Regions from separate parts of the Homo sapiens genome. Here regions 1 and 2 are each linked to region 3. Evidence: fine-mapped expression QTL. A gene starts in region 3. Each other region holds a variant in brackets. All regions are shown on one strand. Distances are between the middles of the regions. Region 1 overlaps ZFAND3 (zinc finger AN1-type containing 3). Region 2 overlaps ZFAND3 (zinc finger AN1-type containing 3). Region 3 holds the start of ZFAND3 (zinc finger AN1-type containing 3).

The links. PIP is the estimated chance that this variant, and not a neighbour inherited with it, causes the effect. A credible set is the group of variants that fine-mapping cannot tell apart.
Region 1: its variant is the best candidate, but not a certain one, in a credible set for the expression of ZFAND3 in whole blood (INTERVAL, PIP 0.77).
Region 2: its variant is the best candidate, but not a certain one, in a credible set for the expression of ZFAND3 in whole blood (TOPMed, PIP 0.69).

The regions. Positions count from the first base shown.
Region 1 is chr6:37,930,265-37,938,273 of GRCh38, forward strand. The region is part of intron 2 of ZFAND3 (zinc finger AN1-type containing 3); the gene reads left to right. Among named protein-coding and RNA genes, the nearest start is that of ZFAND3, 110 kb to the left of the region's middle. The variant G/A (reference allele first, on the strand shown) is at 4,922.
Region 2 is chr6:37,972,266-37,980,274 of GRCh38, forward strand. The region is part of intron 2 of ZFAND3 (zinc finger AN1-type containing 3); the gene reads left to right. Among named protein-coding and RNA genes, the nearest start is that of ZFAND3, 160 kb to the left of the region's middle. The variant A/G (reference allele first, on the strand shown) is at 4,169.
Region 3 is chr6:37,815,158-37,823,166 of GRCh38, forward strand. It overlaps ZFAND3 (zinc finger AN1-type containing 3), which reads left to right and starts at 4,570. Exons shown (of 6, transcript NM_021943.3): 1 at 4,570-4,859. The coding sequence starts at 4,789. ZFAND3-DT (ZFAND3 divergent transcript) reads right to left here and starts at 4,230. Exons shown (of 2, transcript XR_007059569.1): 1 at 3,421-4,230; 2 at 1,157-3,333. RefSeq lists enhancers at 3,777-4,166, 4,136-4,938 and silencers at 4,217-4,596, 4,637-4,866, 5,027-5,196.

The DNA of each region.
Region 1 (8,009 bases), 120 kb after region 3:
CAGTAGAACTGTAAAAAATGCGTGCTCATCTTGACTTGAATGATTATTGGTTAATGTTGCTCTATCAATGAGAATGTAACAGAATATTTTCATGTTGGAGTCAGGAAGAGAATCAAGCTGAGTTAGCCCATCATCAGATCCATCATAGAGGCTGCCATGGTGTCTCACGCCTATAATCCCAGCACTTTGGGAGGCAGAGACAGGAGGATTGCTTGAGGCCAGGAGTTTGAGACCAGCCTGGGCAACATAGTGAGACCTTGTCTCTATAAAAACAAAAAGCCTCCTGCAGATCCCTCATTCAAATCACCTCGGGTAAGTCACGTAATCTCTTTGGACCTTGGATTCATCATTATAAAATGAAGGACTTGGGCTTGACATGTGCCAAGGTCCTTTTCTAGCCCCAGAGGTAATTGGTTAACTTCTGGAATTATGACTCCTTCATGAAGTTGAAACTTTTAGGTCTTTTTATTTTTACTTTTTAAAAAACTTTCTATCTAGCGATCCTATATAAATAAGTCTTTGCTAATTAGGATATGTTTAACTTTCCTTCTTTATTCATTTTGTCAAAGGTAAACAAAGCTGCATACTAGCTAAAGTTCTAAGGACAGGTTTTAGTCAGTAATACACTTTTGCAATAGGGAAGAGAGTCCAGTATGAAATGAAGTCAATGTTGATTTGCAGAGATGACTGGGAGTTTTAAAGGGAGAATGGCAGGGGACTTGGCAGGGTGGATAAACGGAATCTGTAGACTCAAAGAAGTGAAGAATTTAAAAAGATTGGTAAAATATGGTGATTAGGCCAGCTGTGCCTGTTAGCTGACACTGTGACTGGGGAATAGATACCCTATTTTTCCTGATGGTTACATTTTTAAAGGAATGGCTTTCAGGTCCTTGAGAAAGACACTCCTGAGTTGTAGGAGTACAGCTCAAAGGGACAGAGGAAGGATTCACAGTTGTAAGCCCTTTTTAGTAAATGATCTAAGAGGATAGTTAGGGCCTATCTTCAGATGCTGGCTAGAACAAACAGTAGATTCTTTGGCAGCCTTGAGCTTTAAGAGGCAGACAATTTGAGAGAGGCTAGGGTCATCCTAGGGAGGTAACCTTGAGCTGTTAGAAATGTTAGTATTTAAAATTAGCTGGATGTGGTGGTGTGCACCTGTAGTCCCAGCTACTCCGGAGGCTGAGGCAGGAGAATTGCTTGAACCTGGGAGGCAGAGGTGCAGTGAGCTGAGATTGCGCCACTGCACTCCATCCTGGTAACAGAGTGAGACTCCGTCTCAAAAAAAAAAAAACAAAAAAAAAACCAACCAAACAAAAAAAAGAAATGTTAGTGTGTGTAAGTCTTTTAATGTGAAAGGAGGGAGTGGACCAAATCATTTGTTTTGAGAGTCTGTAGTTTTTAAAGGTCCAGGTTGAGGCCTGGTCCAGAAGAGGGCTCAGAGGAGGCTGGCTAGATTTTTATTAAAGAGATTTTTTTTGTTGTTGTTAATTTTAATCTATTCATTATGCTATTTGGGCAAGGAAGTAATCATGGTGTAAGCTTTAGACCGTTACATTTGTGCCTAAACTAGGGGTTAGATGGGAAAGAATTGGGGAAGCTGACAGCTTTTATAGGTTCAAAATTTGGAATTTGTCAGATACTTAGGTTTTTAAAAGAAAAGAAATATTGGTGGGTTTTTATTCAGCTTTTAGCAGTATTTGTGCCATGTTAAAGGACTGTATTCAGGCCGGGCGCAGTGGCTCACGCCTATAATCCCAGCACTTTGGGAGGCCGAGGTGGGTGGACCACGAGGTCTGGAGAGCGAGACCATCCTGGCCAACATGGCGAAACCCCGTCTCTACTAAAAACACAAAAATTAGCTGGGTGTGGTGGCCCGTGCCTGTAATCCCAGCTACTCGGGAGGCTGAGGCGGGAGAATCGCTTGAACCTAGGAGGCGGAGTTTGCAGTGAGCCGAGATCACGCCACTGCACTCCAGCCAGAACGAGACTCTGTCTCAAAAAAAAAAAAATAAATAAATAAAAGGACTGTATTCTGCTGCTTACCTTATGTATCTACAATTACAGATATGAAGAAATGCTTCTTCACTGATGAAAGGTTAACTTTATAGTGAAGACGAAAGTAGCAGTGAGACAAAATGTATACAGGTTGAGAACCCCAAATCCCAAATCTGAAATGCTCCAAAGTGCAAATGTTCCAAAATCTGAGAAAAACAAATCCCAACACTTCTGGTCTCAAGCATTTTGAATTAGGGGTACTCAACCTGTATTAGATTATATATTTGTCCCCACATGGAGACCCCATTGTAATTTAGTAAAGTATGGCTTTGGGAGAAGGCCAGACACCTTTGAATAATAAGGTGGTTCACATCAAATACTCCTGAGGAACTATCTTGTGCCCCTAAATGAATACAAAGTTAAAAAAATTTTAACTATGAAGCTAGAGTTCAGCCATGGGCTTTGTGTTTCTTTGGACTTGTTACAGTTTTACTTTCTGTGTTTATAATTATCTGTCTCGTGATCTGTGTCTATTTACATTTTATACAGCCTTGCCATTTTTGCTTTTATAAAAATATTAGGACATTTTCAAGTATCTAAAGAAAATATTCGCTTCTCTCTATATTTTTTACCTACACACTACTGCTTTCTCCAGTTGCATTTGCGTGGCATGACTAGTTAATATCCTGTCTGCTGAAACAGAATTTTATGTACCTTTAGAAATTCAAAAGAAAAGAGATCATTGAACTTTAAAAATACATTTTTGGATGTCATCTCAGTATGAACATAAGGAGAGTATAGTGAATGCAGTATTACAGAAGAGCCATGAGTTTTACAAGACAACATAAAGATTATTTTGGCCAAAGCCACTGTGATCTTAAAAGACTCTTTTTAAAGTATATTGTAAAATGTACAGTGTACTTTAAAAGATGGAAAAATCACTTTTTAAATAGTTATTGTTTGCCACTAGGTTAAACATTTTCTTTTCAAGATTCCTTTTCAAAATCTATGTGGTGAAAAAATTAGTTTGTTATAACTTGTTTACATAAAATTGAATGAAATGGGAAAAACATCTTTAAAGTCTTACCGAGAGAATACGTTGTAGGTTAGGAACTAGGGGTGTGTGTGTTTACTTGGAGAACTGTTTTGCTGCTGGTGAAATATTCTGCTAAGTGGTGAGCACACACCTGACCCAATAGCCATCATTACTTAAGCTGTTTCTCCTTTATAAAATATTCTTGGGATGTTTGAATTTAGAGGAAAGGAATAAGAAAGGAGAAATGAGTATATGCAGAGTGACAGTTGCTAAAAGCCATTGAAATGTTAGTTGCTGGTAAACTATATACCAAATTATAATGCTTCTGTGTATTGTTAGAATGAGAAATGTTTGTATCAGACCTTTGCATGTATGTGGAAGAGGGCCCAACCTGGCTGGGCTGGATTTGCTAAAGACTCGAAGCTCAACCAAAATTCCTCTCTTTGAAATGAGAGAGGTTTTTTTGTTTGTTTGTTTGTTTGTTTTTTAAACTTTTTGACAACTATCTTATCATTAACCCTGGTTTGGCCTCTGTTACCTTTAAAGGCTAAAATCATTTAAGACTGTTTAAAGGATCTCTCTCTCTCATTTTTTTTTTTTTTTTTTTTTGAGACGGAGTTTCGCCCTTGTTGCCCAGGCTGGAGTGCAGTGGCGCGATCTCTGCTTACCGCAACCTCCGCCTCCCGGGTTCAAGTGATTGTCCCGCCTCAGCCTCCCAAGTAGCTGGGATTACAGGCGTGCGCCACCACGCCTGGCTAATTTTTGTGTTTTTAGTAGAGACAGAGTTTCTCCATGTTGGTCACAGTGGCCTTGAACTCCTGAGCTCAGGTGATCCGCCCACCTTGGCCTCCCAAAGTGCTGGGATTACAGGTGTAAGCCACTGCGCCCGGCCCTTTTTTTTTTTTGAGACGGAATCTGGCTCTGTAGCCCTGGCTGGAGTGCAGTGGTGCCATCTCAGCTCACTGCAGCCTCTGCCTCCCGGGTTCAAGCGATTCCAAAGGACTTTTCTTCACAAAGACATTTAAGTATACTTCTTTCTCAGTCTTAAGAGAAAGGCCTTGACCTAGAAACCTTTATCATCCAATATTTTCTATGCCAGGATAACTACGACACTTACAGTTAAGTATTCTGGGGAAGTACCAGGAAGTGATTGACTCAAGTATTAGGATTTGAGGTAAAGTGGACTTAAATTGCTCATCTACATTCTCTTTATCTGAGGTCATTTAGTCTATTTAAAAAAAAAAAAAAAAAAAAGTCCAGACCCGGTGGCTCACGCCTGTAATCCCAGGACTTTGGGAGGCCCCAGGTGGGTGGATGGATCATTTGAGGTCAGGAGTTCGAGACTAGCCTAACCAACATGGTGAAACCCTGTCTCTACTAAAAATACAAAAAAATTAGCTGAGTGTAGTGGTGCATGCCTGTAGTCCCAGCTACTCGGGAGGCTGAGGCAGGAGAATCACTTGAACCCGGTGGGTGGAGGTTGCAGTGAGCTGAGATTGTGCCACTGCATTCCAGCCTGGGCAACAGAGTGAGACTCTGTCTCAAAAAAAAAAAAAAAAAAAAAAAAAAGCAAAAGTTAATCTTACCATACTATATTCTCTCCATTCCTGTAAGAATTCCTATTTGTTATTTTTCTACCTTCCCCGTCAGTCCCCCTTTCACATATTCTGTATTTTCTTTTCTCAAATTACAATTCAGTACATTTGTTTGGAAATGTGGATCTATATCTCTCAAGTCTAAGACTATTGTGTAGGTAGAGAAGCCTGAAATTCCTGGAGTTTGCATAAGGACCTTTTAGTTGATATATAATTCTTCCCAGTCAAAAGTGTTGATTATTTTTATATTATTGCTAAAGAAAGGTTTTGCTTAACAGCTTTGCATTTTGAAGTT[G/A]TGGAGACTTTCTAAACTATTGAAAAGGATGGTATGTAAGCACCCTGGGACATGAGTTATCAATTGATTTTGCCACAAATCTTTCCAATTATCAGAGCTGGTCTGAGGATCTCTTATGGCCTAATTTTGGCTTTTCTTACCCCCTTGATAATATTCTACCTGTCACACTGTCCTTTCATTAAATATTTTTATATTGTTTTATATATGATTTTACTTAAATAAGTAAATGAATATAAAAAGCGAGAAAATTTTATGACATAGTTATGGCAAATTAACATTTATTGGTTGAAATACTACCTCTTAATGCAGTTTTTCAAACTGGGTATTGTCACTCATTAGTGGGTAGACAATTTAATGGGTCATGATTAGTATTTAAAAAATTCTGAGTAGAATAGAAAATATCAGTGTATTGCACATAGTAAAGTTATTTTGTGAAACCTTTGTTTGACTTGCATTGAGTTGAAAATAATGTGTAATGGGTTATAATGTAAATATGTGTATATTACTATTATGATTTTAAGTTTGAAACCCAGTGAACTGCAGGAGTATGGCTTTGGAAAATCTTGGAATCTAATTTGCTTTGTAAAATAGGGAATATTTCATTTGTGTCTTCAGGCAAGAGGTTAATAGTTGATTTCTTGTGATCTTTGTCAGTTCTGAGCTGTTGAGTAGTTTAGAAATGAAGCTTAAACTAGACCCGATAGCCTACTACAGTGTTAAAATACATATGAAAAGTCAAGCATAGAGTCTAATGAATATTCCTGCCTCTTACAAAGGTAGAAATGATACTGCCTATGGTATTTTTTTTTGTTTGAGTGCAAATCCAATTCATGAATTTGTGCATTTTAGTTGACCAGTGTTTAATATTTAGGAATAGTTAGTACCTAATTCATGATGACCTCTTGTTCTAGCATACTGAAGGCCAGCTATCATTAAAGCAGTGCTTTTCACAGAATGGTTTTGCTGACCTCCTAAATAGAAGTGTGGATGGCAGAAGCATCAAAGAGGATGATCACAAGTGGGGAAGGCAGAAATTTTAAAAGAACTGACTGAAGTAACTCCTCTACTAATGTGACACCATCTCTATCCCCCACAAACCCTTGGAAATACTAGTTTTGGGAGAAGAGAGGAGTATGGTGACTAGAAAGTAGCTATAACCTGTTGATCATTGTATACTTTATAAGGCAGTGAGTCAGAAGATATGTTTAAGAAATGGAAGGTTGTTGGAGTAGCTCTGATGACAGATGCTTATCATAAGGCAAACTTAATATATGTTCCACAGTGTTCAGAATACCACTTGGTCGGTGGACTTTTAAATGTGTGCATACTTAATTTTTAATAAACCGTAGACATGGTATATTTAAACATACTGTTTCATTTAAGACTAACTTTTAAGAAATTTGCTATCACGTGGTTCACATATGATGTACAAGTGTATAGTTGCATGAGATAAAGCTGGAAGATGACATGAAAAATTTAATTGTGGTAGTCTCAGAGTAAGAGTAATTGGGGAGCTTTAAATTTTAATTTTGTCTGTGTTTTCAGATTTAAGTATTAATGTAATTGCACAAATTACAAATGTTTAAAAAGTGAAGTGAATTTATACAATCTAGAAGTGGTTTGTTTCTTTCTGGAATGAGCAAAATAAAATTAGCTATCGCCTGCAGCATTGGGAATCTAAGTGTTGACATCTAAGGTGAGTGATATAACAATGCTGGGCGCAGGGTGAAATGGTAGATAAGCCAAAATGCTAACATTTTTCTTGAAAGTGACTTGAGTTTCATGATAGTTCCAGAAGAGGATAACAAATTCCCATTTCATACCAAGTAAATTAAAATATTTCCTTATGAACTTGCAACTTAGTGGTTGCAGTTACATACTAATCTCTTTCCTGCTTTCATTTCCTGTTAGAATACCAGAGTAAAAGTGGTCTGATTCTAGTCACTTTTGAAAAGCAAAGAGTTGTAGGTTACAGCTGAATTTTGAGGCTTTACAGTAAGAGAAACAGAGTGAGTCTGACAAATTTTAAGCTCATATATTTTCCTTTTAGAAATGTAGGAACTCTGCACAAATAATGTAGAAACAAATTACCAATTTCAATACAAAAAATTTTGCAGGATAGTGGAATTTGTAAGCTTGTCATACCTTGATTTTTTGAATTCACCTTTTCCCAAAAGAAAGCAACTGTTGGCCAGGCACAGTGGCTCATGCCTGTAATCCTAACACTTTGGAAGGCTGAGGTGGGCGGATCATGAGGTCAGGAGATCGAGACCAACCTGGCCAACATGGTGAAACCCCGTCTCTACTAAAAATACAAAAATTAGCTGGGCCTGGTGGCACATGCCTGTAATTCCAGCTACTTGGGAGGCTGAGGCAGAAGAATCGCTTGAACCAGGGAGTCGGAGGTTGCAGTGAGCCGAGATCACGCTGCTGTACTCCAGCCTAGCGACAGAGCGAGACTCCGTCTCAAAAAAAAAAAAAAAAAAAAGGCAAAAAAAGTAACTGCTGCTCTTAAGACGAAGTGTTTGAATAGAGTATTTCTGTTTTTGTAATCTTTTTGACTTGATTGCTTTTGTATACTCTTTGATTTCTTCTAAGCCAGACGCCCAAGAGGGATTTCTCGTGTAACACACACACACATTTTGGTCATGTGTTTGTTAAAAGGGGACAGCTCAACTTACCAGGCTCTTCTTAACCATTATGTGTCTGTTGGTAGGTATCTGTTGGATGGTTGGGTGTCTGACATTCAGAATATCCACAAACCCACCCAGAAGTAACAAATGTTAATGTTTTGCCTTTTTTCTTATCACACTAAAAAGGGCACTAAAATGTCACAGTTTTCTTTTACCCTAGTCATCATCTTCCCAACTCAGAGACAACTACTCTCCTTCTTATCCTTGTATTTACACTTTTTATTATGAATGGGCATTTATATAAATATTGTTATGATTCTGTTTTTAAAATGTTTAAATGGTATTTTGTACTAGTCTACAACCTGTATTCTTTTAAATAATGCTTTTAGAAACTAATCATGTTGACACGTTGCTCTTGTTCATTTTAACTATAATATTCCATTATAATTAATGTC
Region 2 (8,009 bases), 160 kb after region 3:
TAAAGCTGGGTTTAGCACATAAGCCCCACTCTAAGAGCATTAATTCACCAACCCAGTCTTTCTATTTTGTCAGCCACTCAAAGTTTATACTTGCCTCTGTGAGGCTTCAGAAATAATGGATAAATCTTCTGTTAATGAAAATACACCTCCAGATATAATATTCACACTAAGTGTGGTGTTAGAATAACAGATATGGCTCCTCAGTAGTTTTTGGACTCTTGTAGGTATATGGAATTGTGAGACTGTTCATTTTGAGGATCTGTAAAGAGTTAGGACTTACCAGGTATGATTTGAAACACTCAAGATTGTCTCTTGGAGTCTCACACAACAGCTATTATTTTATTTGAATGAGATTATTAGCAGATTGATAGTTGGACCAGGTGCTATACTTTATGCCCTCTCTTCCCTTTGTAAGGTTTTCAGGCCTATTAATTTTTTTTTTTTTTTTACACCATTGGGGTAAGATTTTATTTTGGCTGAAGGTACTTAAAATGGGTGGGTGAGTGATAGATAATATTTGTCTTCACTATTGGCTGTAAACTGGGATTAGAGTAGATTTATTTATTTATTAAGCAGTCAACTAGAAACAAGTGCTGTGAAGTCAATAATATATGGCTTTAGTGAAGATTCCACTTAACTGAAAGTAGACCTGAATTATTCATGCAATTTGCCAACATTTATATCCATTAATAAAGTGGTAGTTTATTTTGAAAAAAACTTTGCACTTACTGAGTTTTTGTTGGCATTTCCCTCCCTCGAGTTCATTTGTCAAAGTCATCATGAATATACTGTTAGTATATTCATGGCTTTTGATTGTTTCACTGCTTTTTCTTAGTTTCTGAGTTGCTGATTTGGTAAAACTGTCATGATTTTCTTTGTCAGTTTTCAAATGTTGCAAAGGGGGCAGAACAACTTTGAGTCCCATAGATGATTGATGGTGCTTTGCAAGTAGTTAAATACACCCAAGGTAAAGGAAATTTTATGGGATTAAAAAAATTCTATGCTCCATTCTAGGTTGATAGTATTTGAAGCAAATTTCATTTCATTGGTGGGTGGCCTCAGTACCTAAACTTTAAAAAGCATGGATTCATAAAACTGTTACAACACCACTTATGAAAGTTTCTGAAGAACTAAAGAGTTGTTAAAAAGCTACTGTCTTTCTCTAAACTTGGTTACTGTGGAGTAGCACTGTCTGATGCAACTTTTTGTAATGATAGAAATGTTCTCTATCTGTGCTATCCAACATGGTAGCTACATGTGGTTATTGAACACTTCAGGTGTGGCTAGTGTGACTTAGGAACTGCATTTTCCATTTTATTTAATTGTAGTTAATTTAAATAGCCACATGTGTCTATTGCTTTCTGTATTAGATAGCACAGCTCTGAAGCATTACACTGAGTACTTAAGCTAAGCTAGTGTTTCTGAGAGAAAGTGATCCTTTGTGATTTTCCTGAAGCTGAAGAAGGCCTGTGTATGGCCTGGAGTCAGAAATTGTTGTGACTTTTCTTGATTTTTTCATGAAATAATTTAAGGACTGTCTTTTCTTTCAAATCTGGGAAAATTCTGAAATGTTCTTTCTCATCTACTTAGAAAGCATTTACTATCACCTTTGACGAGCAATACAGTGGCCAGTATATTGTGTTGTAGGTTTGATTAGTTCTCTATCTCAGAGAGACAGCTTTAGTGACCGAGAGTTTATTGCCTATCTGCAGGAAAATAATAAAGTTTTCCTGTACTCAAAATTGCCAGACTTGGAAGTAGAAATAGCAGCTTTTGCCTTTCTACAACAAATAATTATTCTTTTGGCTAATTCCCATACCTGCCACCTTTACCTTCATTATTTTCTCTGAAAAAGAAATCTGGGCTCATTGCAACCTCTGCCTCTCCCCTAGGTTCAAGCGATTCTCATGTCTCAGGCTGCCGAGTAGCTGGGATTGCAGGCGCCTGCCATGACACCTGGCTAATTTTTGTATTTTTTAGTAGAGACGGAGTTTGACCATGTTGGCCCAGCTGGTCTCGAACTTCTGACCTCAAGTGATCTGCCCTCCTCGGCCTCCCCAGACTGCTGGGATTACAGGCGTGAGCTACCGTGCCTGGCCTGAAATCATGCATTATATACTCTCTCTCTCTCTCTCTCTTTTTTTTTTTTTTTTTTTGGAGACAGGGTCTAGCTGTGTTGTTCAGGCTGGAGGGCAGTAGCGTGATCACACCTCACTGCAGCCTCAACTTTCTAGATTCAGGCAATCCTCCCACCTCAGCCTCCTGAGTACCTGGAGCTACAGGCGTGCGCTCCAACACCTGGATAATTTTTGTAGAGATAGGGTCTTGCTGTGCTGCCCAGGCTGGTCTCAAACTCATGGGCTCAAGCGATTGTCCCACCTTGGTCTCCCAAAGTGCTGGAATTATAGGTGTGAGCCACCATGACCAACTATATATACTCTTGTTTGGTCTGGCTACTTTCACTCAGCATATTTTGAGATTCATCTATGTTGTTGTCTATATCAATAGTTCATTCTTTTCTTTTGCTAAGTAGTATTCCATTATGTGGGTAGTACTACAGACTGCCTAATCCATTTATTAGTTGATGGACATTTGGTGGCTTTGAGCTCCTGAACTCATGTAGTCCTCCTACCTCAGCCTCCCAAGTAGGTAGGAATATAGATGTGTGCCACTATGTCTGGCTATCACATAAATGTCTTTATATGGATGTATATTCCTTTGCTTCTGGGTAAATGCCTGCAAATGAAATGGCTGATCATATCATAGGTTGTATGTTTTAACTTTTTAAGAAACTGCCAAACTTTTCCAAAGTGGTTATATTGTTCAACATTCCTACCAGCAGTGTATGGAAGTTTCAGTTCCTCCATATCCTCACCAACACTTAGTATGGTTAGTCTTTTTAATTTTAGACCTTCTAATAGGTGTGTACTGATTCCTCATTATGGTTACAATTTGCATTTCTCTAATGACATTGAGCATCTTTTCATGAGCTTATTGCCATCCATGTATCTTCTTTGTTCAACCGTTGAAATTTTTTTGCCTATTTTTAAATTGGGTTTTTTTCTTTTGTTACTGATACTATTAATATCCTTTATTCTGGATACAAATCTTTTTCATATTTATGTTTGCAAAGATTTTTTCTTGCTCTTTGACTTGTCTTTTTTATAACAGTGAGTTTTGAAGAGAAGTTTTTCATTTCAATGAAGTTCAGTTTATCCATTTGTTCTTTATGCTTTTAAATATTTTTTCTGCATTTTCTTCAGGAAGTTTCATAGTTTCAGGGTTTATATTTATACTGATGATTTATGTAAATTTTTATATATGATATGGAGGTATACATCTGAGTTTATTATTTTCAAGCACCAGTAGTTGAAAAGGCTATCTTTCTTCACACTGCAGTGCCTTTGGGACTTTGTCAAAAGTCAGTTGTCCATATATGTGGGGGTTTTTTTTCTGGAGTTTATATTCTGTTGCATTGATCTGTTTGTCTGCTTTATGCCAATACCTCTTTTGATTACATAAACTTTATAATAATTCTTGAAATCAGGTAGTGTTAATCCTTCAACTTTATTTTCAGAGTTGTTTTGGCTATTCTAGGCCCTTTTTATTTCAATATGAGTTTTAGCATCAGTTTGTCAGTTTCTCCCAAAAATCCTGCTGGATTTGTGGTTGGGATTGCTGTGAATGTGTAGATTAACGGGAAAATTTACATCTTAACAATGTTGAGTCTTTCAATCTATGATAGAAGTGATCTCTCTTTAGGCCTTCTTTAATTTCTCTCAGCAAAATTTCATATTTTTTGTTGTATAGGTCTTTCACATGTTTTGTCAGATTTATCTCTAAGAAGTTAATATTGTTGATGCTACTTTAAAGGGTATTTAACCTTTGAAAATAGTATGTGATGGTTCATATATTGATTTTGTATCTGTAAACTTGGTAAACTTATTAGTTATAGTAACTTTATTATTTATTCATTGGGTTTTCTATAAAGATGTATTAGTCCATTTTCACACTGCTGTAAAGATACTACCAGAGGCCAGGCGTGGTGGCTCATGCCTGTATTCCCAGCACTTTGGGAGGCCAAGGTAGGTGGGTCAGTTGAGGTCAGGAGTTTGAGACCAGACTGACCAACATGGTGAAACCCTGTCTCTACCAAAAAAAGACAAAA[A/G]TTATCTGGGAATGGTGGCACACACCTATAGTCCCAGCTACTTGGGAGGCTGAGGTGGAAGAATCACTTGAGCCCCGGAAGTAGAGGTTGCAGTGAGCCGAGATTGCGCCACTGCACTCCAGCCTGTGTAACAGAGTGAGACACTGTCTCCAAAAAAAAAAAAAAAAAAAAAAGATACTACCCGAGACTGGGTAATTTATAAACAAAAGAGGTTTAATTGACTCACAGTTCTGCATGAACAGGGAGGCCTCAGGAAACTTACAATAATGGTGGAAGGCAAAGGAGAAGTGAGGCATGTCTTACATGGTGGCAGGTGAGAAAGAGGAAGGGCCACACTTTAACACCATGAGCTCTTGTGAGAGCTCCCTCACTATCATGAGAACAGCATGGGGGAAACCACCCCCATGATCCAGTCACCTTCCACCAGGTCCCTTCCTGGTGGGGACACGTGGGGATTACAATTTTAGATGATATTTGGGTGGGGACACAGAGCCAAACCATATCACCAGACAATCATGATGTTTGTGAATGAAGACAGTTTTACTTCTTTCTCTCCACTTTAGATACCTTTTATGGTCATGTGTCTCTTAATTGTGAGGATGCATTCAGAGAAATGCATTGTTAGGCAATGTCATCATTGTGCTAACATCATAGAGTATACTGCACCAAATACTGTAGGCAATTGTAACACAATGGTAAATATTTTAGTATCTAAACATAAGTAGAAAAGGTATAGTAGAAATATAATCTTATGGGACCCTCATTGTATATGTGGTCTGTCATCGACTGAAATGTTGTGTTACGTCGTATAACTGTATTTCTTTTCTCACATGATTGTACTGGTTAGACTCTTCAGTACTATTTATTTATGTATTTATTTATTTTTGAGACTGAGTCTCGCTCTGTCGCCCAGGCTGGAGTGCAGTAGCACGATCTCAGCTGACTGCAACCTCTGCCTCCCGGGTTCAAGTGATTCTCGTGCGTTAGCCTCCCGAGTAGCTAGGATTACAGGTGCCCACCACTACGCCTGGGTAATTTTTGTATTTTTAGTAGAGACGGGGGTTTCACCATGTTGACCAGGCTGGTCTTGAACTCCTGACCTCAAGTGATCCGCATGCCTCAGCCTCCCAAAGTGCTGGGATTGCTTACGGACATGAGCCACTGCACCCAGCCTACAATGTTGAATAGAGGTGGTGGGAGCAAACGTCCCTTTCTGTTGCTGATCTAAGAGGGCAAGCTTTCAGTCTTTCACCAGTAAGTATGAGATTAGCTATAGGTTTTTCACAGATGCTCTTGATTAGGTTAAGGAAGCCCCCTTTTATTTCTGGTTTGCTGAGTTTTTTGTTTTTTTTTTTTTTCAAATGAAGAATGAATGTTGAATTTTGTAAAATGCTTTTCCTTCCTTCCTTCCTTCCTTCCTTCCTTCCTTCCTTCCTTTCCTTCTTCCTTCCTTTCTCTCCTCTCCTCTCCTCTTCCTTTCTTCCTTTCTTCCGTTCTTCCTTTCTTCCTTTCTTCCTTTCTTCCTTCTCACTCTGTCTCCCAGGCTAGAGTGCAGTGGCTTGATCTCAAGCTCACTGCAACTTCCGCCTCCTGAGTTCAAGTGATTCTCCTGCCTCAGCCTCCTCAGTAGCTGGGATTACAGGTGCCCACCTCTATGGCTGGCTAATTTTCGTATTTTTAGTGGAGACACAGGGTTTCACCATGTTGGTCAGGCCAGTCTCGAACTGAGACTGTGCCTGGCTGTAAAATGTTTTTTCTATGTCTGTTGAGATCATGTTGTTTTTCTCCTTTAATTCATTAATATAGTGAATTAATTACACTGGTTGGGTTTCAAATGTTAAAGCAGTCATACAATTTTGGGATAAATTCCGTTTGGTTGTGATACATTCTATTTTTGGATAAAATTTTGCTTAGAATTTTTGCATCTACATTTCATCATGGATGTTGGTCTGTAGTTTTATCTTGTAATGTCTTTGTCTGGTTTTGTTATTAGAGTACTTCTGAACTCATAGAATGAGTTGGAAAGTATTCCCTTCCTCTTTAATTTTCTGTTAGGGGTTTGTTTAGAGTTGCTGTTGTTTCTTCTTTAAATGTTTGATGAGATTCATGAATGAAGCCATCTACACAGGGAGTTTTCTTTGTCAGAGAGTTTTAACTGCAAATGCAATTTCTTTGATAATGATACACGGTTATTCAGAATATCTATTTCTTCTTGAGTGAGCTTGTCTTTTAGTGCGTTTGTCCATTTCCTCTAACTTGTATTTATGGCATAAAGTTGTTTATAACATTTCATCCGTCTCAGCTCACTGCAACCTCTGCCTCCTGGGTTCAAGTGATTCTCATGCCTCAGCCTCCTGAGTAGCAGGGATTACAGGCGCCGGCCACCACACTGGGCTAATTTTTGTATTTTTAGTAGAGATGGGGTTTTACCATGTTGGCCAGGCTGGCCAGCATTTTATGCTTTTAATATGCATAAAACTGTAGTGAAGACACCTCTCATTTCTGATACTGATAATTTGTGTCTTTTTTTTTTTTCTCTAGTCAGTCTGGCTAGACATTTATCAACTTATTGATAATCTCAAAGACCCCTCTTTTGGGTTTCATGGCTTTTTTCTGTTTCATGAATTCTCACTTTAATCTTTATTTCCTTCCTTCTACTTTGAGTTTAATTTGTTCTTATTTTCTTTCTTAAGGTGGGAACTGAGTTTATTGATTTGAAATCTTTTCTAATAAAGATTTAATGCTAAAATTTTTCACCTCGTTACTGCTTCAGTGGCAGCCTGCAAATTCTGCTGTGGTGGTGTTTTAATATCCATCTCTGCTAATTTCAACACCTCTGTCAGTTCTGAGTTGGTTGTGATTATTCTTTTCATGGTGGGTCAAGTTTTCTTACAACTTTGTGTATTTGATTATCTGTGTTTGGGTGGCAGATACTGTGAGATTTACTTTGTTGGGTGCCATGTATTTCTGTAAATGTACAAATCTTGAGCTTTGTTCGAAGATGCAGTTAAGTTACTTGGAAGCAATTTTGTCTTTTGGAATTGTGCTTTTATGGTGTGTGTGTGTTTAAAAGTGGGTTTGGAGAGGTGCTCAATGTAGAGTTAATTGTTCTCTACTTCCAAGATAAAACCTTCTTGAGTACTCTATGCAATGCTCCTGAATTATGAGTTTTTCCAGTCTGACATTGGGCACAGGCACTATTCCTTGCCCTGTCTATGTGCGTCTCAAGCCCTGTCAAAACAATCCATTACGATGGTTCTTTGCCTGGCATCAGATAGTTTTTTCGTATGCATGTGCTGACCTGTACTTGGCTGAATAATCAGGATCCTCTCCTGATATATAACTCTTCCTTGTGTGTTTTTCTGTTCTGTGAACTCTAGCTGCTTTGTTCTCATCAGGCCTCTTAGCTTATTTCCTCAACTTACCACATCTGCTGAGTAGGACCAGCTATATAATTAGCAGGGCCCAGTGTAAAATGAAAATGTGAGCCTTTGTTAAAAAATTATTTAGTTTCTTAAAATTCTAATTTTAATCAGATCATTAAACCAAGCACTGCACCCTTCGGAGCTGCAGCTGCACAGGTTACATGCCTACCAAGCCAGGGCTACTGCTGTACTCCACTTCATGTTCCCTTCTCTGTTCCATGGCCCAGTAATTCTCTTCAAGGCAATAAGCCAAGACAATTGTAGGGCTGGTCTCCTTTGTTTCCCATCTCTCAGAGGTCACTGTCTTTTTTTTTTTTTTTGCTAGATATCCAGAGTCATGAAAATTGTAATTTTTGTCTGTTTTTATTTGTTTTTGTTTCAGGCAGGAAGAGAAATCCAGTCCCTGTTAACCTGCC
Region 3 (8,009 bases):
TTAGTAGTCCCTGAATTAGGCAACAAGAAATGTGACTGGGCAGGGTCTCTGCCTCCTGCTCTGGTCACAGATGCCCCACTTTCTCTTTCCTGGCAGCCCAAGGCCTTGGATCCAACCTGGATTATTGAAATTGGCTCTCATTCTCTCCAGAGGTCCAGGATGTTATAGGGTTCTCTGCTCTCATTCGTCAGTCAGGGTCAAGGGACCCAAGAAAAAGGAGCTAGGGAAAATAACTCAGTGGCAAGGCAAAGAGCCTTTGTTAAGCTCATAAAACTAGAGTTGGGAACTGAGATTAAATTTTACAGATAATATTAGGATTAGAATTAAATCTAGAGTTTGGATTGGACATTGGGGCTAATACTAGGTTAGGATGGATTATAATGATGACAAGTTTTGAACTGAGAGTGAGTTTCAAGGGTAGGGATTAGAATTAGAGTGGAGGATCATCTGCTTTCTCTCAGGTCTCTACAAGTCCCTTCTTTTTGGTAAAGTCTTCCAGGGCTAAGTAGGTCTTTTGAATTCTTACCAAGAAGGCAGCCATTGTTTGCTCCTGACCTTGAATCATACCAGGCTCTTTTCTATACACCCTCAGTTCCTACTTCAAAAGCTCTGGCTGCTGAAGAATTAATATTATCCTTTACTAGACCCCACTGAGCACGTAGATGGCTCCTTTTGGGCCAATGGTGATTGCAAACTACTCCCAGGAGTCACATCACAGGTTCATCTGGAACATAATACACGACAGAAAATAGTCAAGACAATTACGACAAAAGCACTCTGCCAATTACCCCCACACTTTGCTCCCCTAATTTGATGATGCCCTGAAATTTTATGTCCTCTCTGAGCTTTCAGTCAACTAAGTGGGCTTGTTATAGGAATTGGATCAAGGGCTCTATAGATAGAGACACTGGGAACTAAGAGTAAAGAGTTATCTGGCTAGGAACGTCATAAGCAGCAGCTAAATACTGTCTCATCTCATACAACTTCAGTGTGACAAAAAAGCTGGCAGCCTTGTGATGAATGAGGTCAGAAAAAAAAAAAAGCAGAGAGCTTCAATGTCTTCTAGGGAGGGTGGGTTGGTAACTAAGACATTCCCCCAGGATTGTCTAACTATGACTCCAATCCATTTGTGGGTCTCACATTGACTAACAAATTATTGTGCTTTTATTCATACAACATTTATTGAACGCCTCCCAAATGCACCTTGAGTATTGTGTATATCACAGTAAACAAAACAGACATGATTTTTGGAGAGGAGACTCACAAATACATATTTAAACTATGATAGGTACTATAAAGAAAAAGAGTGCCATGTAAGATAATAATGGGGCCACCAAATTTTGATTGGGGCTTGGGTCAGGGATGACTTCTTTGAAGGAGTTCCATTTAAATTCAGGTCTGAATTTGTTTAAGTAGGAGTCAGTCTGTTGAAAATCCTTAACATGTCAATTGTTCTTTATGCTTTTGAAGTTCAGCTGCAATTTACTCCTTTATGGTCTGTGGTGGACATTTTTTGGAATCTTTGCCAAGTACATAACTTTGAGAACATAGCCTACAAAGATGGGGTTCTGGCAGCCATGTCTGCTTTACAAAACAAAAAGACCTGACTACATAACTGCCCTGTTGGTCAAAGGTGATTGTACCAAGAGTACACAAGCGGACATAAATCGAACCAATCAGTTTCTTTCTCCTGGGGATTGGGATTCATAGATACTAATTAGTCTCTGTTTGTTCTTGAAGTGAGGCTGGGTAAACCTGGATTACGTTCCCAAAAAAGCAGTGAAAACAGCTCTGCCGAGATTATAAAGCAGCTTTGTAGAGAGAAGCAGAGATGGAAGAACCTGTAACCAGAGAGAAAAAGATATCGAAAAAAACCAAACACTTGGCTTCCTGTTGATGTATTAGGTACCTATTTCAGTCCTTCATGCGATCTTACTGCTCTCTGTGTCCTTGGGTTGTATAAGATTATCTCCTTGTGTTGTGTGTATACATATAAAGAGAAAAGGCAGCTGAAGCAGTCAGGAACAGGAGGACAAAGGAATGGAGATGTGGGAAAGCAAGGTATTTGAGGAATGGCAACTAGTGTCTGCTTCGCAGAGTGAATAGAGAAGAGTAGAAAATGAAGTCTGAGAGGAAGACTGGAACCAAATTATCTACATTATATGTAGGGACCTGCTGGTGAATGCTACATTTTATTAATCCTTTTAGTCTCCAGAGTGCTTAGCAAAGTCCTTGTGTATACTGGGTACTGAATAAATGTTTGTTGAATAACTGGCAAACAGGAAAGCAGTTTGGAAAATGACAATCACTTTTTATGTTGAATTCTCCTTTTAGTTGTCGAGTTTCCTTTTCTGTACATAAAAGAAAATCATCAAGATGCCAAGAGAGATAATCCCACTTAATCTTTGTTAAACTCAAAGGCTGTTAAGTATCTCACGCATGTGGGAATTTTATGTCGGCTTAAATGAAGATTTAAGGGTAATATGAATCCAATGAGAGCAAGGTGTGCTGTATGGCTTTATCCTTTCTATGCATTTTTTCTTTCTTTCTTTCTTTTTTTGAGACAGAGTTTCGCTCTCGCTCTTGTTGCCCAGGCTGGAGTGCAATGGCATGATCTCGGCTCACTGCAACACCCGCCCTCCGGGTTCAAGCGATTCTCCTGCCTCAGCCTCCCAAGTAGCTGGGATTACACGCGTGCCACCATGCCCGGCTAAGTTTTTGTATTTTTTTTTTAACTAGCGACGGGGTTTCACCATGTTAGCCAAGCTGGTCTCGAACTCCTGACCTCAGGTGATCCACCCGTCTTGGCCTCCCAAAGTGCTGGGATTACAGACGTGAGCCACAGCGTCCGGCTTTTTCTATGCACTTTCTTACAGATATACTTATTGAAGGCTTTGGAAAATCCACCAAATTAAAACTAAACATTGTGCATAATAAATCAGCACTCACATTTTAGGGTGTTTTGGCTTTAAGTGCTTGATTTTTGCAATCATTAACTTCACCATCAACAGCATCTGTGGCATATTAAGCTAAATGCGATCCTTGCTCTTTAGAGGCCAAAATAAACATCAATGTTAACAAACCCACACAGTATGCACAAACAGAAATGTGATTTGGTATATAAAGAAATAAGATAGCAACATTTGGTAATCAAATTAATCTAGGTAATAGTCTCTCTGAGGCTCTGATATACCCGACAGGCAAGGAGGGTATACGGCAGCTATTCCTAAGAGCCAGGAAGTCTTCCTCAGCGATGGGTCTCCAAAAGGTCTGGAGGATGTTGCCTCCGTGTTGAATTAGTCATCAATAATCGATTTCTCTGTTCATGACTAACTGGAGATCAGAATGAGCTCAGGATCAAGGACTAGGATCGTTAAAGGACTCATTTTTTTAGTGTCTCAAACTTCTTTGGTCACTTACCAATTTCCATTACTGATTCAGCTACAGCTCCCCTTTCCCCTCCAAAAACCAAACGTGTCAGCTGTAGGAAGAAGTGCGGCTCTCCTAGCCTGGGCATAGGGACTCGCCTGGGCATAGATAATGTACTTGTGGCTCTGTGGTTGGGAGTGGAGACAAGGAACTCCCCAACACCGGTGGGGGAGAAGAGACAAGGAAGTTGCCCCAGACAAGGGGCTGGGGGAGGGGCATTTCCCAAAAGTTCCTGTCAAGAGACCAGTATACCGGGTGGAACTATAAGAGTTGTTTGGGTGTGGCGGGACCAGGAAGAGAGAGAGAGATGCCCAGGGAGTTGGCAAATTGGGGAGAATGGCTCCCCGGAATCGCCCAGGAGCCAGAGCGGCAGCTCCAGGGACCTTGACTCCGACGCCCCCGGGAAGCCAGAGCTCCACTTCCGCGTTTGGCATTGCTCCCCCAGGCCCCTCCTCGCACTCGGTTACGGGTTCTACGGGCGCATGCGCCGCCACTCTGGGACTGGCCCAATTTACCCTACACAACTAATCTGCTCCTCCCCCTCCCGCTTGGAGCGCACCATTCGCGTTTAGGGGGAGGCACCGCGCCCCGGAGTACTCAGAAACCTGCTCCCCTTCTTCAGACAGGGGGAAGATAAGTTTGCTTCAGATTCTAAAAGTTCTAAGAATACGAAGGCCTCAGCCGCCCGTCGCCGGGCGACAGCCCGAGGCTCTCGTTTTCTCCCACAGCCCCGCACTCCGCCTTTGAGGCGCGGAACGAAGTGGCACGCCCGGATCCCAGCTGATCAGCGGCTGGGCTTTGGCGTTGGCTCCCCCGGGCGAGACCATTGTGACTCCTCGGGAGGGGCGCACGCCGGGGAGGGGGCGGAGCGGCCATTGTCCGGTCAGCGCAGCCTCCGGGGGAGGGGACGGTGTTACGGAGACAGCAGGGCCCGGGGCTTCAGAGCGGCCGCTGCGACTCCGGAGCCGGCGGGGGGCTCCGGTCCTTCCCTGCGCCACCGCACAGGACATCTCTCTGGCTGGGGAGCGGCGGTGAGACCCGCCGAGGGCGTCTGTGTCCCTCCTCCCCCGCGGTCCTCGGTGCGTCCGCACGCCCCTCCTCCTCGGCTCCCTCCTTCTTCTCTCCGCGCCTCTCCGCCCCCTCCCCGTCTCCGCAGGCCGAGTGGTGCGGCCCGCCTCCAGCTGACCGGCCTGGAATCCCGGCTCCGAGCCCCGGACTCGCGCCCGCCCGCGCGCCCGCTCCTTCCCCCTCCCCCCGCCCCGAGCCCCCCGACGCCGCCGCCACCGCCTCCTCAGAGCGGGGCCCGGGCCCAGCCGCCGCCACCGCTGCCGCCGCCGAGCTCCGCCGCCGCCGAGCACCATGGGAGACGCTGGGAGCGAGCGCAGCAAAGCGCCCAGCCTGCCGCCTCGCTGTCCCTGCGGCTTCTGGGGGTAAGTGCCCGGCCGGGTGGGGGCGGGGGGCGGGGGCCGGGGGCGCAGACGCCAGGGCAGCCTGGGCAGGCCTCGGGGCCCGGGAGGCCGGAACCTTGGAGGCTGGGCCCAGCCCGGGCCTACGGGGAGGGGGTGGGGGTCGCGTTCCGGGGAGGGGTGCCGGGTGGGGAGCTGGGGGTGGGCAGAGAAGGCCCTGCCGGGGGTGCGTTGCTACCCTTTGGGACTCGCCGGCCTGAAGCTCGGGCCCACGGGGGCCTCCTGGGCCACGGGTGAGGGGGGCAGGGCGGCGGGGAGGGATGAGGGGGCGGCGTTGACCGCTCCGGGAGGAGCAGGGGTGCCCCTTCCGTGGGCATGTGGAAGCCAGCCCTTCCTCCCTCCCGGGGCGTGAGTTGGTGCCCAGGCACTAGGAGGGTATTTCCTCTGACTTCTTCACCTCCCCTCCTCCCCGTCCTCCGGAGACTTGCATCATCACTTCCTAGATTATATCCCAGTGCCCCATTTGCTTTTAGGAAGCTATTCACACGTCACCCGTTTGTAAAAACCGAGTCCAGAACCAGGCTGGGGTAAAGTTATAAGATTGTTGAGGTCTCACCTTCATGTAAAACACGTTTCAGGAGATATGTAAAATTTCCTTGTCAAAAAGGAAGAAAAAAACCACACAAAACCTGAAGTCAGCCTGGATTGGGGAATATGAGATCCAGTTTCCTCAGTTGGCTCTCAAATTCTCCTCTTTCTCAATTTAAGTAAAAATGATAAAAATGTTGACAGTGGGTAGCATATATTGTTTGGCCATCATGTGTTAAGGCGAAAAAAATGTGAGGTGGGAAATCAGCTCCTCTTCCTCCCCCCATTACTGTTTAAATTCTCCTGGTAACACTTTAAGCTTCATGGATTGCCACCTAACAGGTGCCTCCATCATACCACATGACTGTAGTTCTGCAGTAAGAAAGCTGGAGACTTTGAAGGCTGGCTTTTGTGATTTGAGTCCCTTTTCTCTTTTATCGTTTTGTTTTAGTTTTATTTTTTGAGAGATTCCGTATATTTGGAGACATAGAGGCAGGAAGGAAGATTGTTTCTGGTGAGGACATCTTGGGAAGAAGTATGGAAGTAGTTTTCCCTTTGCTATCTCCCATATTGTAGGAATGGTTAACAGAAATTAAGAGTAATTTTGGGAGTGCAGAGAAAGATTAGAAAGTGGATCTTAATGTAGACTTCTGTGGAAGTTGTCGTATCTCAAGGTTATGACAAAGAAGTGGATTTTCATTTTCTCATTTTTCTGCCTTTCTCAAAAATTTCCCTGTGGAAGGACATTAGTCAAAAATAAGTTGTGGCATATAAAAAGTCCTAAAAATGTGAAAATATTTCTAGTCTTCCCTTCATTTTGATTTGAAAATAATTGGTTTGCCTGTGAAGTGCTTTCATGGACTGTCTAATTCCCACAAGAATCTTGCGAGGTAGGAACCATTATCTCATTATTAGCTGGGGAAACTGAGGCTTTGGGTGGATAATTTGCCGCTTCACACAGGGAGTGTAGGGTGGAGCTGGTGAGCTCTTTAGAGTGCGTAGTACCATCATGTTTATGGTATCAGTCTGCTGCCCTGGAAAAATCTTGTGTCACAAGCCTCAGATTGTAACTCATTGTAAGACATATGTCCTAAAGAAAGTCGCTGCCAGTGGCAGCTAATGCTCAGGATGTATCAGGTCTCTTTCCTGGCAACACGTTTATGTCCTTCGGACTGTTACCATGAATGGAATCTTTATCGAAAGACTTATATCAAGGCTTAGAAACTAAGGAAATGGAATAGCCTTTTACCTTTATTTATTTATTTATTTTTGAGTCGGAGCCCTGCTCTGTTGCCCAGGCTGGAGTGCAGTGGCGTGATCTCGACTTACTGCAGCCTGCACCTCCCGGGTTCAAGCAGTTCTCCTGCCTCAACCTCCCAAGTAGCTGAGACTGCAGGTGCACACCACTATGTCCGGCTAATTTTTGTGTTTTTTAGGAGAGACGGGATTTTGCCATGTTGGCTAAGGTGGTCTCAAACTTCTGACCTCAGGTGATCTGCCTGCCTTGGACTCCCAAAGTGCTGGGATTACAGGCATGAGCCACCGCGCCCGGCCAGCCTTTTACCTTTAGCCGGTAGGGTTCTGATAATGCCAATAGAGTTTGGTGGCAGCAGACAGGAAAAGTTACACTAATGTTGTACTTGACCTATAAGCAACCAGGGCTTCTTTTTAGATATTTTCAGTCTGATACTTTTTATGAACTTCAGTTTACCTAGCAGGAGTAGTGACCACAAAACTAGTATTTTTATCGTGAAAAGTGTTCTTTTTGGTGCAATGTTTTAACCTTTCCTAAGGACGTTTGTAGACAATTGTGTAGTTTGTATTTTATACCAAAGCATAGCAACATTGCCGCCTTGTTTCCATCGTATCACAACTGACTTTGGACATGTTTCCCTTACTGTATGGGCCACATTCATATTTTGTTCACTGAGTAAACTTAGAATATATTTAACAGATATTTGAATGCCTGTGATATAATGGTGGGCAAGGAGGTGCTGGCCCCATACTCTGGGGCAGGGGGCACAGGGAAGTAAACTGACAGTTGCAATACGTTGTACAGGTGCTCTAGGGGAGGGGCACCTACCCTAGCTGGGGTGGAGGTAGAGGAAAGTAGCCTGGAGAAAGTGACACTTTAGCCTAGACCCACAGGAAGGGTAGAAGTAGAGTATGGAAACAAATATTCCTTTCAGGCAGTGGGACTAACATGGGTGAAGGCCGGGATGTGAGTGAGAGCACTACTCATTTGAGGAACAGGTTTGTTGGGTCTGTTGATAGATTGTGAAGGGGGATCACAATCTAGAGATAAGGGGGTCTGTTGGTAGATTGTGAAGGGTGATCACAATCTAGAGATAAGGCTGGGGAATTGAGAGGAATTGGTGATCCAGGGCCCTCATAGCATTGTAATGCTGAGGACTTTGGACTTTTATCCTGAGTGCAGTGAGGAGCTACTCAAGAACTTTGATCAGGGAGTGATGTATATCTTTAATGTGAAAGACTATTGGTGGTTCTTGAGAATGGCTTGGGTGTGTGGGTATGACTCTGTGTGTCTGTATGAATGTGATATACGTGTTTCCGTGGAACGTTGCC